Linked DNA regions of Homo sapiens. The protein of the gene in region 2 interacts with the protein of the main gene of each other region in a pairwise test. Each region holds a gene or a part of one and is shown on either strand. Other genes may lie near its edges.

The links. The genes of interacting proteins can lie anywhere in the genome.
Region 1: the proteins of ENC1 (region 2) and NACC1 interact in a two-hybrid assay, tested with the Homo sapiens proteins (one study listed by BioGRID).

What each region holds. Positions count from the first base shown.
Region 1 is NC_000019.10:13,128,264-13,131,763, reverse strand, and holds part of NACC1 (nucleus accumbens-associated protein 1), read right to left. Parts: intron 1-3,500. UniProt on the Homo sapiens protein: Functions as a transcriptional repressor. Seems to function as a transcriptional corepressor in neuronal cells through recruitment of HDAC3 and HDAC4. Contributes to tumor progression, and tumor cell proliferation and survival.
Region 2 is NC_000005.10:74,634,229-74,637,728, reverse strand, and holds part of ENC1 (ectoderm-neural cortex protein 1), read left to right. Parts: intron 1-27; exon of another isoform or gene 28-235; intron 236-1,230; 5' UTR 1,231-1,243; coding exon 1,244-3,013; 3' UTR 3,014-3,045; intron 3,046-3,500. UniProt on the Homo sapiens protein: Actin-binding protein involved in the regulation of neuronal process formation and in differentiation of neural crest cells.

The DNA of each region.
Region 1 (3,500 bases), on a different chromosome or scaffold from region 2:
ACAGCCTGTGACTTCCCTTGCTTGTATCTTCCTTCCTCTTCCCCTCCTCAAAATCACTGCCACCATCCTACGAAAACACAAACAAAACAAAACAAAACCCCAAAACCTCCTTAGGGCAATCAGAGGGTGGAGGCTGGATCTAGGAATCCCAGTTACAAGGCAACAAAAATCTCCGCCCAGGAGCTCAAACTCAGAGCTGAATGGGCCAGGAGCTGGCCACTCTGCATGAAGAGGCAGGAGAAACAGGCACCATGTTGGGGGGCAAAGGACAGAGCCCAGAGAGCCTACTTCAGGGGTCCTGGCAGCCCTGAACCACCTCCCTGGGCAGCCAAATTAAAGCCACCCCTGGTACTGGGGCCCACATGACAAGGACCAAGATGGTCAAGGGAAGAGGCTGGCATCCCAGTTCCTAGAGGGGTGCTCCAAGCTCATTCCCCAGGGAGGAGGACAAAGCCAGGACAGGTGTGCAGTGCTGCCAAAATCCTGCACCTGCCTGTGCCTCAGTTTATTCATCTGTAAAATGGGCTGTTCATCCAACCCATCCTGATGAACTGCATCCTCCTTTGTGGGAGGTGCTGGGGACACAGCCCTAAAAGGACCAGCTGTGCTTATGTGGAGCTGTCTAGTGAGGAGACACCGGGGATGATTTAATTACAGTTGGGGTGGGTATGTCAACCAAGCAGATGGCCTTGGTGGTAGGGACCATAAAAGGTTGAGCAACTGCCAGGACAGAGATAACACTTCTGGGCGGGAAGGTATCAGGTGTGGTCCAGGGACCCAAAGAAAGCTGGTGTAGCTGAAGGGCGATGTAGCAGGGACAGGGCTGCCAGGAAGGGTATGGGACAGGTGGGGTCCTGGCCTACAGAGTGTGGACATCTTTGAAAGTGAGCCCCAGGGTCAGGGCAGCATTTTAAGAGTTATATGTACAGGCCAGGCGCGGTGGCTCACGCCTGTAATCCCAGCACATTGGGAGGCTGAGGCGGGCAGATCACCTGAGGTCAGGAGGTCAAGACCAGCTTGGCCAACATGGTGAAACCCCGTCTCTACTAAAAATACAAAAATTAGCCGGGTGTGGTGGTGCACATCTGTAGTTCCAGCTACTCAGGAGGCTGAGGCACGAGAATCACTTGAACTTGGGAGGTGGAGGTTGCAGTGAGCTGAGATCGAGTCACTACACTCCAGCCTGGGCAACAGAGTGATACTCCATCTCAAAAAAAAAAAAAAAAAAGAAAAGAAAAAAGAGGTGTATGTACAGTTAACCCCTCCAAGGGCACTGTCAGCTCAATGAAGGCAAACATTCTGGCTGGTTTTATTCAAGATTAGTTCTTTAGAATGAAATAGATGCTCAGTAAATATTTGTAAATGTGTTAAAGAACAGTGCAGAGAGGCTGGGCACGGTGGCTCACGCCTGTAATCACAGCACTCTGAGAGGCAGAAGCAGGAGGAGCCCCTGAAGCCAGGGGTTCAAGACCAGTCTGGGCAACATAGTGAGACCCCTATCTCTACAAAAAATTTTAAAATTAGTGGGGCTTGGTGGCTTGCACCTGTAGTCCCAGCTACTTGGGAGGCTCAGGTGGGAGGATCACTTGAGCCAAAAAGTTAGAGGCTGCAGTGAGTGATGATTGTGCCACTATATTTCAGCCTGGGTCATAGAGCGAGACCCTGTCTCTAAAACAAAAAAAGCAAAAACAAAAAACCACATCCCCCGACCCCACTACCCCACCAAAACCAACCAACCAACCAGCCAACCAAACAAACAAACAAAACAGTGCAGAACGGGCACAGGACTGCTTCAAGGTGACCTTACCAAGCACCCAGCACCGGCCACAGGTAATTTTTTTTTTTTTAAAGACAGGGTCTCACTATGTTGTCCAGGCTGGTCTTGAACCCCCCCATTTGGCAATGGAGACTGAAAGGTTACGGGGATAATAGGAGGCAACAGAGATGTGGGGGTTGGGAAGGTGGCCCAGGTCCCCTCCTGAGAATGAGAGCCAACCTGATGCTCAGACTGAGGTCCCCCATACCTTGTGAACCTCAGCTTCAGAGCCCAGCACCACAGCACCCAGGGCTTTGGAGCCTTTGATTAGCAATTGGTCCAAATAGCTCAGCCAATTAGCGCACGGGAGCTCTCCCTCCCTCCATGCTGCTGGGGACGAGCGGAGTGGGGCGACGGGTCTGTGAGCCACAGTGACCTGAATGCTGTTCGTCTAGTTCCCCAGTGGCCCCCGCACAGAGTGGACAGGGGTGAGCTGCAGTGTGGGCCAGAGCAGACCCATCTCTGGGAACCCCTCCATCCCTCTGTGATTGGCCCAATCCGGCCCAATCCTGCCCAATGGACTCAGGAGAAAAACTATGTGGGCCCCTGCAAGAAGCCCTCACCCACGCTAGCCCCAGGAAGGGAGCTAGCATGACTGGACTCAGAGGAAACGGGTCTCTCGCTGGCAGGTCCCTAGCAGGGTCACCTGCTGGCTGAAGCAGGGGTGGGATGGAGTCGAGGATTGAGGTCTCTAAACCACCTAATGGTTCTAGTCCCCACCAAATCCCCACCTAAGTCAGGCTCAAACACACTGCCTGGTCCTCCTCTACTGCAGCGAGGCCTTTGCCCAAGCTGTGCACCCTGCCTGGAATACCCTCTTCCTCCACCCTCAGCTACTCACTTCTCCAGGCTAGAGAAGATGTCCCTCTCCTGCCCCACCCCGGCCACAGTGCCCTTAAGCTTACCTCTGAGGAAACTAAGTCCCACTTGACTATAAACTCCCCAAGGGCAGAAAACCATATGAGAATCATCTCTCCTTAAAATTCAGCATATCAGCACCCCTGAGGGTGTGGGGGACAAGGGCAGGAGGCCACAGGGCAGCTGGGACCTTCCTGGCCAGGACAGTGCCTAGTCCTGGCCCTGGGCCTGAGCAGATCTTCTGGTGAGACCCAAGGGCACAGCACACGGTTTCCATGACTTCCCAACAACTACTCAATAAATATTTGCCAGGTCCCTGCCTGGGCAGGCCACAATGGTGACAAAGTAGCCCTGCCTCTGGAGCTCACAGTCCAGCAGGAGACAGGGCCATTCATCCTTGGTCACACAGATCAATGTGCTACACACTGGGGTGCCTGACCTTGCCCAGAAGGGGTGACACTGGAGCTGAGATCTAGGAAGGGCAGTAGTGGATGGGGAGTGTGGCCCTTCCAGAAAGGGTTTTCACCTCCAGGGGACTGGGCTCAGTCTCAGGGCTCTGCTATGGACAAAGTATGTCCCTCCAAATTCACAGATTGAAACTCTGAGCCCCAATGTGCCTGTATCTGGAGATAAAACCTTTGGGAGCTAATTAAGGTTAATTGAGGTCATAACGGTGGTATTAAGAAGGCAGCTGTCTGCAAGCCATGAAGAGAGCCCTCACCAGAACCTGACCACGCTGGCACTCTCATCTAGACTGCCAGCCCCCAGCACTCTGAAATATAAATGTCTGTTGTTTAAGCCACCCAGTCTGTGATATTTTGTTGTG
Region 2 (3,500 bases):
TTTGCATTTTGAACTCCTTCTATGCAGGTGTCAGCATTTGCAGGTATACAGGAACAGTCCTAGTGATGCACTATTTAATCAAAAGACGGATGGATCTTTTGTTCTTGCAGCTGGTTTTCCAAGAATTGATATAAAGCGGGAAGAACAGAAAACAGCAGTCATAAGTATGCTACTCAAAATATTCTTCTTTTTATGTGCCAAATCCTCACATTGGAAGCTGTCCCGAGCAAGACAGGTAGTTGGTGATTATGGCCAGAATTTATTCTGTGCTTTGACTAAAGGCTTGCTGATCAATATATGGTTAATGTTGAAATTGGGGTGCTTTTAGGACTCTTCAGTGGTAGAGCTGTCTGGTTAGAAATTAATCTTTAAGTTGGGATGCCGAGGTGGGAGGATCAGGTGAGGCCAGGAGTTTGAGACCCGGTCTCTACAAAAAATACAAAAAATTATCTGGGTTTGGTGGTGCACACCTTTAGTGCCAGCTACTCGGAAGGCCAAGGCAGGAGGATCACTTAAGTCCAGGAGTTCGAGGCTGCAGTGAACTGTGATTGCACCACTGCACTCAAGCCAGGGTGACAGAGCGAGACTTGGTCTCAAAAGTATATATAAAATGAAATACATTATCTGTAACATTTAAATAAAGGTCTGATCATTGCAGAAGTTGGCCTTACATTTCCCATTTACTGTATGTGCTGGGAGATTGGATCTTACCAAAGGAATTCTTAATGGAATTAATTATTAGGTGTTTGTTTTACGCATGGCTTTATGTTGCATGGGGCATGAAAGCCAGTGCCCATCCTGGCATTATAAGAGCAGGAGACCTGGCATTTTAAGTGGCCCGCAGTGAATGAGCTGGACTAGGACAGGGAGCTGTGGGAATGAGACTCACTCCTCTTGGCTTTTGCTGACTTATATTCTAAAAGACTTCGATGGCCTGAAAGTTGGCAATCAGGTTTTCCAAGATGAACCTGCTTTTTATGCAGTGATTTTTTTTTTTTTTTTAAACAGTGCAGAGTTCAAATAGCTCAACAGTATTAGCAGTGAATATCCTTCCTTCCGGGTAGTTGTCTCTGGCTTTGTCCTGGAATGGCCATACACTATTCTAGAATAGTAGGTGGCATGGTCAACAACAAAGTGTTCTGTTTTTTGTGCAAAACCATTGTTGCTTTCGTTCTGCTGTTCTGAACATCAGGAGCATCATTTTCAATTTATTATTATTATTATTTTTAGGAGTGGAAACAAAATGTCAGTCAGTGTGCATGAGAACCGCAAGTCCAGGGCCAGCAGCGGCTCCATTAACATCTATCTGTTTCACAAGTCCTCCTACGCTGACAGCGTCCTCACTCACCTGAATCTTTTACGCCAGCAGCGTCTCTTCACTGACGTCCTTCTCCATGCCGGAAATAGGACCTTCCCTTGCCACCGGGCAGTGCTGGCTGCATGCAGTCGCTACTTTGAGGCCATGTTCAGTGGTGGCCTGAAAGAGAGCCAGGACAGTGAGGTCAACTTTGACAATTCCATCCACCCAGAAGTCTTGGAGCTGCTGCTTGACTATGCGTACTCCTCCCGGGTCATCATCAATGAAGAAAATGCAGAATCGCTCCTGGAAGCTGGTGACATGCTGGAGTTTCAAGACATCCGGGATGCATGTGCAGAGTTCCTGGAAAAGAACCTGCATCCCACCAACTGCCTGGGCATGCTGCTGCTGTCTGATGCACACCAGTGCACCAAGCTGTACGAACTATCTTGGAGAATGTGTCTCAGCAACTTCCAAACCATCAGGAAGAATGAAGATTTCCTCCAGCTGCCCCAGGACATGGTAGTGCAACTCTTGTCCAGTGAAGAGCTGGAGACAGAGGATGAAAGGCTTGTGTACGAGTCTGCAATTAACTGGATCAGCTATGACCTGAAGAAGCGCTATTGCTACCTCCCAGAACTGTTGCAGACAGTAAGGCTGGCACTTCTGCCAGCCATCTATCTCATGGAGAATGTGGCCATGGAGGAACTCATCACCAAGCAGAGAAAGAGTAAGGAAATTGTGGAAGAGGCCATCAGGTGCAAACTGAAAATCCTGCAGAATGACGGTGTGGTAACCAGCCTCTGTGCCCGACCTCGGAAAACTGGCCATGCCCTCTTCCTTCTGGGAGGACAGACTTTCATGTGTGACAAGTTGTATCTGGTAGACCAGAAGGCCAAAGAAATCATTCCCAAGGCTGACATTCCCAGCCCAAGAAAAGAGTTTAGTGCATGTGCGATTGGCTGCAAAGTGTACATTACTGGGGGGCGGGGGTCTGAAAATGGGGTCTCAAAAGATGTCTGGGTTTATGATACCCTGCACGAGGAGTGGTCCAAGGCTGCCCCCATGCTGGTGGCCAGGTTTGGCCATGGCTCTGCTGAACTGAAGCACTGCCTGTATGTGGTTGGGGGGCACACGGCCGCAACTGGCTGCCTCCCGGCCTCCCCCTCAGTCTCTCTAAAGCAGGTAGAACATTATGACCCCACAATCAACAAATGGACCATGGTGGCCCCACTCCGAGAAGGCGTTAGCAACGCCGCAGTAGTGAGTGCCAAACTTAAGTTATTTGCTTTCGGAGGTACCAGTGTCAGTCATGACAAGCTCCCCAAAGTTCAGTGTTACGATCAGTGTGAAAACAGGTGGACTGTACCGGCCACCTGTCCCCAGCCCTGGCGTTACACAGCAGCAGCTGTGCTGGGGAACCAGATTTTTATTATGGGGGGTGATACAGAATTCTCTGCCTGCTCTGCTTATAAATTCAACAGTGAGACTTACCAGTGGACCAAGGTGGGAGATGTGACAGCAAAGCGCATGAGCTGCCATGCTGTGGCCTCTGGAAACAAACTCTACGTGGTTGGAGGATACTTTGGCATTCAGCGATGCAAGACTTTGGACTGCTACGATCCAACATTAGACGTGTGGAACAGCATCACCACTGTCCCGTACTCGCTGATTCCTACTGCATTTGTCAGCACCTGGAAACATCTGCCTTCTTAAATGCAGTACATTCTAAAGAGAGTGAGCATGAGGTAAGAAGTTTAGCTATAGATGTAAGTATGCATATAATTAGGCTATTGTGTAAGTTCAGTACATGGGGTGAGATCTGATCCACAGAGACTGTACTGCAGAAGTACTACCAAAGCTGTAAAAATAAGAGAGCTGGTGCCCCTAGAACTTATCCACTTGTGTTGACCACAGCCTCAGCCCCCACCATGGCATTAGCCAGTGGTTCTCAGCTTTTACTGAGCCTCAGAATCTCCTGAAGAGCTTTTTATTTATTTTATTATTATTATTATTATTTGAGACAGAGTCTCGCTCTGTCACCCAGGCTAGAGTGCAGTGGCATGATCTTGGCTCACTGCAAGCTCCGCCTCCTGGGTTCACACCATTCTCCTGCCTCAGCCTCCCGAATAGCTGGGATACAGGCGCCCACCACCAGGCCTAGCTAATTTTTTGTATTTTTAGTAGAGACGGGGTTTCACCA